Linked DNA regions of Homo sapiens. The protein of the gene in region 1 interacts with the protein of each later gene in a pairwise test. Each region holds a gene or a part of one and is shown on either strand. Other genes may lie near its edges.

Region 1 (5,016 bases):
TACAAAAAATACGAAAAAAATTACCTGGGTGTGGTGGTGCACACCAGTGGTCCCAGCTACTTGGGAGGCTGAGGCAGGAGGATCGCTTGAACCCTGGAGGTTGAGGCTACAGTGAGCTAAAATCATGCCACTGCACTCCAGCCTGGGTGACAAAGTGAGACTTTGTCTCAAAAAAAAAAAAAGTACTTTTCCAAAATACTTATCCAGGCCAGGGGCAGTGGCTCACACTTGTAATCCCAGCACTTTCGGAGGCCAAGGTGTGTGGATCACCTGAGGTCAGGAGTTCGAGACCAGCCTGGCCAACATGGCGAAACCTGGTCTCTACTAAAAATACAAAAATTAGCCGGGTGTGGTGGTGTGCACCTGTAATCCCAGCTACTCAGGAGGCTGAGGCAGGAGAATCACTTGAACCCAGGAGGTGGATGTTGCAGTGAGCCAAGATCGTGCCACTGCACTCCAGCCAGCAACAGAGTGAGACTCCATCTCAAAAAACAAACCAAAAAAACCCGAAAATACTTCTCCGTATCCCACTGAAACACTAGTTAAGGTATTCTAAGGTAACTGAGAGCTAAATGGTGATTTGCCACTCCTTTGGCTTGGTGGGGCTGGAAATCCCTTTTATTCTCCCATGTTGTAATGAGATGTCTTTGCTCACTCTTTTTTTTCTTTTTCTTTAAATCTCAGAAGGAGGCCCCAACCCTGAGCACAACAGCAACCTGGCCAATATCTTAGAGGTGTGTCGCAGCAAACATATGCCCAAGTCAACGATTGAGACAGCACTGAAAATGGAGGTGTGTACTGTTTGACATGCTTTTTATTGATCACAGCCTCTACCGGGCTCATGTCTGGATGGCCAACAAACACACTGTAAATTATCAGAGGGGCCAAGTGCAGTGGCTCACGACTATAATCCCAGCACTTTGGGAGGCTAAGGTGGGTGGATCACTTGAGGCCAGGAGTTTGGAGACCAGCCTGGCCAGCATGGTGAAACTCCATCTCTACTAAAAATACAAAAATTAGCTGGGCGTGGTGGCATATGCTTGTAATCCCAGCTACTGGGGAGGCTGAGGTGGAGGATCGCTTGAACCCAGGAGGTAGAGATTGCGGTGAGCCGAGATTGCACCACTGCACTCCAGCCTGGGCGACAGAGCGAGACTCTGTCTCAAAAAAAAAAAAAAAAATTATCAGAGAGAACGGTAGCAATGTAGTTGACGCCCTCAGCCTAGAGTCTTCTGAGAGCTCACCGTCCTTGGTCATTGGTTCTAGGAGCACAACTGGGAGTAGGATGCATAGGCAGTATGCAGGGCCATACAGTCAAGACCGGGACTGCTCAGCCAAGTTGTAGGGAGATGAGGTATTATAGAAAGAAGGGGCAGTGTGGGAGAAAGCCCTTACGTTAGGTGGAGGAAGTGTTTGTTTTTCAGATGTTTATGCCCTAAAGGAGAAAAGCCAGTAGAAAGGGAGAGGATGGGGGTGATAGAGATGGTGGGAGGGGCAGGTATATAGAGTCCACGTAAGGGTACACCTTTCTCTGGGGCAGGTAGGGAGGCTCTGAGGAAGTAATAGTTATCTTAATAGCTCAAAATTATTGAGTGCTTCCTGCAGGCTAAGCATGGATAAAAACTCTATGTGTGTTATCTCATCGAATCCTCAAAACCACCGTAAGTAGAAACTGAGGCACAGGAATGTTAGGTGAGTTGACTCAAGTCGCATAGAAAATGACAGACTTGAAACCAGATAGTCAGACTTTAGAGCCTGTGCTCTAACCGTTATGCTTATTGCCTTCATGTAGGCCATGGTGCAGAGAAGGTGGTGGAGACAGCAACTATTTTCCCCACCTAGTGGCCCTTTTTACCTTTGTGAAAGAGGAAGGGAGAAGTTATGAGTTGAGAATTCCTGGAAAGTTGCAGGACAGGGTGCTTGGAGTGGGGAATATTGAATACATGGACAAGGGATGAGTAGGGGCATGGAAGGTCCAGAAGAGATTAGTCCCTAGAGCTCTGGATTAATTGTTTCAATTTTGAGACCATGCTGTTTTCAGCAGCTCTTACGACAAGGCCTAGGTGTGTGATATTTCACAGCAGTACTCAGCAGCCCAGGGTAGGGACCTTGAGACTTGACCGGTGGGTTTCTTACAGGATGGGGGTGTAGGAGGATGAGTCTGAGTGGGATTGGGTAGGGACTAGATGTGGCATTTGGTTAGGGATGGTAGGAAGCAAAGCTGAGAGATGGCTGATGGATTGTTCAGGGACCGGAGAAACAGACTCCTTCCAAGTTAGGGGTAGTACTTCCTGTTACCTCAAAAGTTGGTTAGAGGGTGGGGACAAAAATAAAGATTGAGAGCTCAGGCTCCAGCCTAGAGAGCCCATCCCATGGAGTTAGTTTTGCGATACTTGTAGTTCTGGGCTGACATGTGGGAAGGAATTGGGAAACAGGAAAATGTGCTTGTGTTGTTTATTGCAGAAATCCAAGGACACTTATTTGCTGTATGAGGGTCGAGGCCCTGGTGGCTCTTCTCTGCTCATCGAGGCATTATCTAACAGTAGCCACAAGTGCCAAGCAGACATTAGACATATCCTGAATAAGAATGGGTAAGTGTGCGTCTGGGAGGAGTGGTAGGGGACAGAGCCTTTATGTTCCAATTCTCTGCAAGGCAAGTACTGTTGATCTCTGCTAGTGTTTCAGGGTTTTGTTTTTTGTTTTTTTGTTTTTTGAGACGGAGTCTCACTCTTGTCGCCCAGGCTGGAGTGCAATGGCATGATCTTGGCTCACTGCAACCTCTGCTTTCTGGGTTCAAGTGATTCTCCTGCCTCAGCCTCCTGAGTAGCTGGGATTAAAGATACCCACAGCCATGCCCAGCTAATTTTTGTATTTTTAGTAGAGGTGACAGGGTTTCATCATGTTGGCCAGACTGGTCTCGAACTCCTGATCTCAGGTGATCCACCTGCCTCAGCCTCCCAAAGTGCTGGGAGCCACCATGCCTGGCCATGTTTCAGGTTTTAAGCACACTTGCTCCTTAGCAGAATCTAATGAGTTAATTGACTTTCCCTTAATGTAGTTTCTACTAGCAGGATCCCAAAGACTTGTTCATCGGATGTAGAAGGGGATCTTTGTCCTATTATCCCCATCTGTAGCCATATAATGCCTAAGTCTTAAAATGCTCCACCAGGACTGGCATCTTAATGGCACAGGAAATTATCAGCTAAGTCTGCTTCCTCCCAACTGCAATCAGGGCAGAAAATCGAGCGTGGGGACATTCTTGGGCTGTTCCCTTACCCAGCAGCAGCTGCATTTTCTCCTTGAGGATGCGATCTGCTCCATGTCTGTGTGTACTTCATAGACTGGGTAAGAAAGAGACAGTGATAGAATGATGAGCTTTATGGAGGCTGAGCTTCTAGAGGCATCCACTCATGCCAGCCTGTTTCCTTCCCTGTCAGAGGAGTGATGGCTGTAGGAGCTCGTCACTCTTTTGACAAAAAGGGGGTGATTGTGGTTGAAGTGGAGGACAGAGAGAAGAAGGCTGTGAACCTAGAGCGTGCCCTGGAGATGGCAATCGAAGCAGGAGCTGAGGATGTCAAGGAAACTGAAGATGAAGAAGAAAGGAACGTTTTTAAAGTAAGCATGAAAACATGGGTGTTTGGTGGGCTTCCGGGAGGACCCTGATAGATGCCTTATGCATGCCTCTTGGTTTCTTCCTTCATGTGCCCCAGGGTATAGGTGAGACAGTTCACATATTGTACAAACATTTATTAAGTGAATACTGAATAGGACCGACTCTAGTGAGGACTATGAGAAAGAAAGAGTCAAAACATTGAAAACGATGTCCCTGCCAGTGAAGAGCTCAAACCCAGTGATCCATTCCAGTACTGACATTCAGGACTTTGCAAGGTCCTGTGTGGCTTTGTCTCATTACCTCCTGGCTCCTCACCTCCTGACTTTCCTTTATCCCTAGTTTATTTGTGATGCCTCTTCACTGCACCAAGTGAGGAAGAAGCTGGACTCCCTGGGCCTGTGTTCTGTGTCCTGTGCACTAGAGTTCATCCCCAACTCAAAGGTGCAGCTGGCTGAGCCCGACCTGGAACAGGCCGCACATCTCATTCAGGCTCTCAGCAACCACGAGGATGTGATTCACGTCTATGATAACATTGAATAACCAGGCTACATGTGCCCCCGGGTTCCTTCCTAGAAATGTGGCAGCCCATTCCAGCACACAGGCTTCTGCAGCAATCTCTGAGGGTAAAGCCGGTGGGAGGCTCAGCAGGCCAGGAGGCCCAAGGACAGGACTTGCGACCTTGAAGCCAAAGGAATCTCACTTGTGGGGCCTCCTTGTCAGCTCTGCTGCTGTCTCAGAGCCATCTGGATGAGTGTCCCGACACCCTCTCGGATGCAGGGCAGGACCACCCAGCTGGTCAGACTCTGATGTTGGGTAGCTGGCCTCTGTGGGGATTGTAAGTGCCCTGAGGCGCTCTGTACTAGAAACTGCTCTTAATAATAACGGTGATTATTGGTTGCTGCATTGCTGTTGTATGGCTCTTGAGTCTTCCTGAGTTTGTGTCCAGCTGTTGGGATCCTCTGGACTAACTTTCAAGTCCCTAGGCTTAGCTCTACTACTCCAATCCCAGGATTATTTTTTTAATTGGCCATAGAAATGTAGTTGTATCCAGGCACTCCATGGTCTGATGCTGGTCTTACAGCCTAAACCTGTCATTCATTCATGCAACTAATATTTCTGGAACACTAGCTATATACCAAGAACTGTACTTATCTAGAGCATAAGCTATTCAACTGGTGTCCTGTGTTAGATCCTGCTCTAGAAGGTAGGACCTGAACACAGGACTGCTCTTTACTGGAGCTGTCCCAGGGCAGTGTGAGCTGCTGTGCAAGCATCTGTTGCTCTCTTTGTGTGACTTCTGTGCCCTTCTTTCACCAAACAGCTTAAGGTTCTAGCCCAGTAGGAAATCAAGTGCCAGTGATAAGGGACTTGGCAGTGGCTCACACCTATAATCCCATCTACTC
Region 2 (7,045 bases), on another chromosome or scaffold:
AGGTCAAGGAGAAAGGAGTTCGTTTCCTAGGGAGGAAGACAGAGGCTGCAAGGACTGAGGGTTGGGGGTGGGATGAGCAGGTGGTGTAATTGGACAGTTGACCAGGAATGTGTGTCTGGTGGTCAGCCCATTTCCAGAACGGTCTTCAGGAGAGTTTTTCTGCATTGCAGTGCTTGTTTACCCTCAGGGTGAGTCAAAGTCCAGGATCCTGTGGGGAGGGGAGCAGCTTAACTAAAATTTGGTTAAATCATTTACCGCTGGGCGCAGTGGCTCACGCCTGTAATCCCAGCACTTTGAGAGGCCCAGGCAGGCGGATCATCTGAGGTCAGGAGTTTGAGACCAGCCTGGCCAACATGGCGAAACCCTGTCTCTACTAAAAATAGCCAGGCGTGGTGGCAGGTGCCTGTAATGCCAGCTACTTGGGAGGCTGAGGCAGGAGAATCACTTGAACCTGGGAGGCAGAGGTTGGAGTGAGCCAAGATTGCACCACTGCACTCCAGCCTGGGCAACAGAGTGAGACTCTATCTCAAAAAAAAAAAAAAATCATTTAGCAAGCATTTAATTTCGGTTGATAAATTGACAGTTTAATCATTTCAGAGGAAAAGAATGAGAATTTGGGGGACTGTGTTTGGGTTGTCCTAGGAAAAGGAGGGGTCGTCTGAGCGTTCTGGAAATCCTATGGGGAAGGGTGATTCTGTGCAGTCAGCCATTCCCCAGAACACAAAATGTGGGGGTTTTGTTTAACCTTCCTGTTGTCCAGTATCTCAGTTCAACATTGCCAAGATGATGGTGCCTACCACAAAGGGTGTTCTAGGGTCAATTGTGTTCTTATTTGTATAGAACTCAGCCCATAATTTGTACCTCATTAAGCATTAGGCAGATAAGTACATTTAGAAGTTCCCTGCATCATGAGAAAACCTCTTTCGTCTAACCCACATCCTTCAGGCTGGAGTTAATTCCTCTTCCTTCAATGCTCTGATTTCTGACACTGGAGATGGATATAGGTGGGTTTTGTTTTCTTTTGTTGAGACAGGGTCTCATTCTGACAGGGTCACTCAGGTTAGACTGCAATGGTACAAACATGGCTCACTGCAGCCTCACCCTCCTGGGCTCAAGTGATCCTCCTGCCCAGCCTCCCATGTAGCTGAGCCACAGGCACGCACCACCATGCCCAGCTAATTTTTAAATATTTGGGTAGTGATGAGGTCTCACTATGTTGCCCAGGCTGGTCTCCAACTCTTAGGCTGAAGCCATCCTCCCACCTCAGCCTACCAAAGTGCTGGGATTACAGGCATGAGCCACTGCACCCAGCAGGGATTTTTTTCTTTTTAAACTAATAGATTTTTTTTTTCCGAGCAGTTTTAGAACTCTAGAAAAATGAGTGGAAAGTACAGATATTTCCCATATACACCCCCCTCCACCCTGGTTTCCCCTGTTATTAACAACTAGCATTAGTGTGGTACATATGTTATCACTGATGAGCCAATATTGATACATTATTATGAACTAAAGCCCATAGTTTACATCGGGTTTGCTCTTTGTGTCGTAACTCCTGTGGGTTTTGACAAATGCATAATGTCATGTGTCCGTCATGATAGTGTCACACAGAATGCTCTCGCCACTTGGTTTAGGTGGTTATATTAGACAGTTGAGATTGTGAACAACTGGTGAAAGAGACCAGGGCTGTCCCACTAAACAGCCCTGGTATTCTACTTACGCTTCCTCCCCAAACTCTAGCAATCACTGATCTTCTACTGTTTTCATAAGTCTTGCTTTTCCAAAATGTTATATACGTGGAATTATATAATATGTGATGCTTTCAGATTGGTGTTCTATATGGTTTTTTTTTGAGACGGAGTCTCACTTTATTGCCCAGGCTGGAGTGCAGTTGTGCAATCTTGGCTCACTGCAACCTCTGCCTCCTGGTTCAAACAATTATCCTGCCTCAGCCTCCTGAGTAGCTAGGATTAGAGGCCTGCGTCACTGCGCCTGTCTAATTTTTGTGTTTTTCTTTTAGTAGACACAAGGTTTCACCATGTTGGCCAGGCCGGTCTCGAACTCCTGACCTCAAGTGATCCATCCACCATAGCCTCCCAAAGTGCTGGGATTATAAGCGTGAGCCACCACGCTCGGCCTGTACATGTTTTTTTTTAACTGTCTAGATGATGCCAATGTGCATCCAAGATGGGATCAGTGTCTCAGATCTTTGCCACTCTAAGCATCAGCAGGAAATTCTTAGAAGTGCCAAATTGCAGGCCCCAACCCAGACCTATTGAATCAGAATATGGATTTTAACAATATCCCTAGGCAACTCACATACACATCAAAGTTTGAGAAGCACTGACTAGGACCACCAAGAAACGGTCTCTCCATGACATGGCATCAGTCTGCCTGCATAGTTCAGAAGGAGCCATTAAAAAAAAAAAAAAGGTTGGACTCGGTGGCTCATGCCTGTAATCCCAGTGCTTTGGGAGGCTGAGGTGGGAGAATCATTTGAGACCAGGAGTTCAAGACCAGCCTGTGCAACATAGTGAGGCCCTGACTCTAAAAGGAGAAAGCGAAGAAATACACACTCATAAATGGAAACTTACTATGGAAAGTGTTCTTTGCCTTATCACATATTACCATATATATATATAACATATATATGTTATATATGTTATATATGTATGTTATATATAAATACATATATATGTTATATGTACATATATGTTATATATGTACGTTTTATATATATTTATATATGTATGTTATATATAAATATATGTTAGAAAACTAGATTATAAACTAGATTATATATATATATCTTGGACATCTTTCCATGCCAGCTTGTGGAGAATTCCTTCATTCTTTTTGCCAGCTACAGAGCATGCCAATAGAAGTACTGGCCACAGTGTCCTGCTTGCCCAATGATGACTTTCAGGCTTTGCACTAATGAGAGAGAAAATCTGTGAAATGGGCTTGCTGGTGCAAAGTATACAATCTTTTCTAAAAATTTTTATCATTATTATTGTTTTTATTTTTTACTGAAGAGCTGGGGAGAGAAGAAAGGAAAAAAAGAAAAAAATTTCAGTGAAGGATGATGCAAAACTGTCCATCAAAGAGACTGTAGCAATTTACATTCTCACTTATTTCCCCATACCCCTGCCAACACTGAGTAATAACACACTTTAAACGTATTTGTCAGTGTGATATCCAAAAGTGATATTTTGTTGTTTTAATTTTTATAGTATTAACGATTAGTGGGGATGAATATTATTCCAATGCCATGTATATCTATATATTTTGCTGTGGGCTACATATTAGTATCCCCTGCCTACTATTTTTATTGGGTAGATAGGCTTTTAAAAATTGACTTTTGGCTGGGTGCGGTGGCTCATGCCTGCAATCTCAGCACTTTGGGAAGCTGAGGAGTGTGGATCACTTGAGGCCAGGAGTTCAAGATCAGCCTGGCCAGCATGGTGAAACCCCATCTCTACAAAAATACAAAAATTTGCTGGGTGTGGTGGTACGTGCCTGTAATCCCAGCTACTCGGGAGGCTGAGGCAGGAGAATTGCTTGAACCCGGGAGGCAGAGGTTGCGGTGAGCAGAGATTGCGCCACTGCACTCCAGCCTGAGAGACAGAGCAAGACTCCGTCTCAAAAAAAAAAAAAAAAGGACTTTTAAGAGCTCTTTATACTTTTAGAAAATTAGTCTCTTTTCTGTAATATATGTTGAAAATATTTTCCTAGTTTCTTCATGTGTCTTTTGACCTTGTTCCCTGTTCATGGTGATTTTTGCTGTGCTTTAAATGTTGTTGCATGTATCTATTTTTTAGTTTATAGTTTTTAGGAAGCAGCTACTTTTCAAACTCTTGTTATCCAAGGATTATTAGGTGTACAGGATCCCTGGGTAAGAATCTTTGTGAGATATGCTTCATATACAGAGGAAGGATTACAAGTGACTGAAAAACCCAACTCAAATGGACTTACACACAAGGAATTTATTGGCTTGTGCAACTGAAAAGTCTGAGCCTGGAAGGATCCTGGACTTCAAATGGGTCATCAGGATGCAGTCTCTCTTAGCCTTTCTTCATGCCAACTTTACTTGCAAGCAGACCCTTCAACATAGTATCTCCCCAGCCCTCAGCTTACGTCATTCTTACTACCCACAGTTCCTACAGAAACTTCTCTTTCCCAGTTGTTCTAGCAAAAGTCCCAGGGTTGCTTCACTGAAGCAATTTCAGTTAAGAACTCATCCCTGGGCCAATCCCTGTAGTGAAATATGTTGACTAGCTAGGCCTTGGGTCATGATCCAGGCCCTGGAGCAAGGCCAGGGGTCGGTCAACTGTACGGAAATTCATAGATTGGGGGTTCCCCAAAGGAAAACCCTGGCCCCGATACCCAGGGAGAGAAAACAGATAGAGGAAAAGTCCAAACAATAATGCCCTCAGCAGAGAGACAGGTGGATAGTAGGTTCAGATCTTCCAGCCAGCTGGTAATGTTGTCCTTCTCACTCGCAGAACCCCAGGCTGGAGAAGCCCGTGCTACTCTCCGAATTTCCTACCAAGATCCCACGAGGTGAACTGGACATGCCTGTTGAGAATGGCCTCCGGGCTCCGGTCAGTGCCTACCAGTATGCGCTGGCCAACGGGGATGTCTGGAAGGTGCATGAGGTGCCTGACTACAGCATGGCCTATGGCAACCCTGGCGTGGCCGACGCCACCCCGCCCTGGAGCAGCTACAAGGAACAGAGCCCTCAGACGCTTCTGGAGCTGAAGCGGCAGCGGGCTGCAGCCAAGCTGCTCAGCCACCCCTTCCTTAGCACACACCTGGGCAGCAGCATGGCCAGGACGGGCGAGAGTAGCAGTGAAGGCAAGGCCCCCTTGATCGGAGGCAGAACTTCACCGTACAGCAGCAATGGGACCTCGGTATATTACACGGTCACCAGCGGAGATCCCCCACTCTTAAAGTTCAAGGCCCCCATAGAGGAGATGGAGGAGAAGGTGCATGGCTGTTGCCGTATCTCCTAGTCTCCGTGTGATGGAGGAGGGAGATGCCTGGGGAGGGGCTCCTGGAATCCAGGCCAGCCCAACAGCCCTGGCTGGGGAGGTGTCAGGGCAGCTGGGGAGAGGTGGGCTCTGCTTTTCAGAGGAACTCAGACCCCAGCCCTCAGCTGGCTGCCCATAGCATCCCATGTCCCACGTCCCGTGGTTCTGCTTCCTGCTGCATCGTCTGCCATCTGACACAAGGCCTGTCGTGGCCTCCTGGTTCACTCTGCTGTCTGATCTTGGGAGGGTGGGCTTGAGATCCCAGCTCTATTCTTGGTATAAAGGCTTCTCCGGATCAGTACATGCATGTCACATTAACACACACACACACACACATATACACACACACACAAGCTCGATCAGTGTGTGTAGGAATGACATACCTGGGCTCAGGGGAAGCAAGGGGGCTTAGAATTTGTGGGGTATTCCCAAAAGGATGGAAGTTAAGACTCAGAGTCTCATTACCACTGCCAATGTGGTTTTAGCAGGGGAGGGGACCTGCTAAGCTGAGACCCATAGTCCTGCTCAGAGTTATCCCAAAGTCTGAGCCACCAGCCACACCTGACAGGGGTGAGAAGTCCTCGCTGTGTTCAGAGGGAGCCAGGAATCTACATGGGTAGATGAGATAGACACAGACCTGCTCCCCGCAGCCTTGTTGAGAGCCACACTTCTGCCCATGCCAGGAGCCAGCTGTGTGACCATCCAGGGGTGGAGGGGGAAAACCAGGCAATTTCGTTCCTGGAATCAACCAAATCATGTTTTCCTCTTGGATGGAAGTGTCAAAGGCAGAAGGGTGTGGGAGGGGGACAAGGTCAGTATTTACCAAAGTGTATCTGATTTTAAAAATTCCTTTAGTCTGTAAAACTCCTAGAGGGAGGGAGGTAACTGAATTCACTTCTTTTTGTGGATCGTATCAAGGTCACTGGGTTTTACTGGCTGGTGCTGGGAAAATGAAGCTAAGTGAGGAGCTTCCATTGGAATGCTTTTCCAGGGAGAGAGGCCAGTTAATTTAAAAAAAACAGTCGCTAGTTAACAGCGACAGAGCCCAGCACCCTGGGGTCTTTGTGAATATCCAGACTGTTTCAGCCCAGCCCATCTCAGCCAACCCTCCTTAGACTGAGCTGTCAGAGCAAGCAATTAGGGGCCAGCCTGCCTCCACCTCCCACCCCCTTCCACCTCCATCAGTCATGTGTGCAGAGTCAGTGCTCGGGATCCCGGGCCCAGCTTTTGCCTTTTTGGGGATGCTTGGTGAGACAGATTTGCCAGTCAGCCCTTTTGAGTTCCCGCCTCACCCAGGGGCTCCCAGCCTGCACTTGCAGGAGTGGTGATGCCCCAAGTCTGCGAATCCAGGGTGCACGTGGTCAATATCCCCTCCTGCATTCAGGAGAGCCATGGTAGGGCTAGAGTTGGGTCTTGCCCAGCCCTGCAGTTTCATAGTCCCAGCCTTCCTGGTGCTGGGGAGGGAGGACTGTGAATGGCTGTTCTCCCCTCACTGCTGAGTCTCCCAGGACCCCCTTTGGAGATGCCCATGGCATGGGCACTGCCCACAGGCTCAGCCAGAACCTCTTGGTGTACCCGATAAGCTGCAGGTTATCCCTTGCTCTGTGCGCCTTTTATTTGTCCTTAAACTACCTCCTTAGAGCTCTGAAGGGGTCTCCTAGTTCCAGATTTTAATTTGGGGAACAGATCTGGGTTCTTTTTAACCCTCTTCTTTCTCAGTCTATGAGAAACTTGCCCTGAGGGGCACCTGGGCTAGGGGCTTGGGACTGGAAGACCATCCCCGCCTTGTGCCACAACTTTGGTCATGGGATCTGCTCTTTGTCATTCTTAGCCCCCTACTGTGGCCCCCATAGCCCCATAACCCAGAGAGGGAGCTGGACTTCAGGGAGCCTGAGTGATGCTTTCCCAGGAGCAGGGCAGCTGGCTGGACCAGAAAGTAGAGGGCCCATGGGAGTGACTGCACCCTTGGTGGCTGCTGGAAGGGGAGAGGTTCTCAGCATCAGGCCACCTCCACC

Evidence for each region.
Region 2: the proteins of TACO1 (region 1) and PPP1R16B interact in binary tests that used the Homo sapiens proteins (3 or more experiments, as listed by UniProt).

The regions. Positions count from the first base shown.
Region 1 is NC_000017.11:63,603,850-63,608,865, forward strand, and holds the end of TACO1 (translational activator of cytochrome c oxidase 1), read left to right. Parts: intron 1-684; coding exon 685-791; intron 792-2,463; coding exon 2,464-2,591; intron 2,592-3,437; coding exon 3,438-3,615; intron 3,616-3,952; coding exon 3,953-4,153; 3' UTR 4,154-4,516; downstream 4,517-5,016. UniProt on the Homo sapiens protein: Acts as a translational activator of mitochondrially-encoded cytochrome c oxidase 1.
Region 2 is NC_000020.11:38,913,655-38,920,699, forward strand, and holds part of PPP1R16B (protein phosphatase 1 regulatory inhibitor subunit 16B isoform 1 precursor), read left to right. Parts: intron 1-4,502; coding exon 4,503-5,012; 3' UTR 5,013-7,045. UniProt on the Homo sapiens protein: Regulator of protein phosphatase 1 (PP1) that acts as a positive regulator of pulmonary endothelial cell (EC) barrier function. Involved in the regulation of the PI3K/AKT signaling pathway, angiogenesis and endothelial cell proliferation.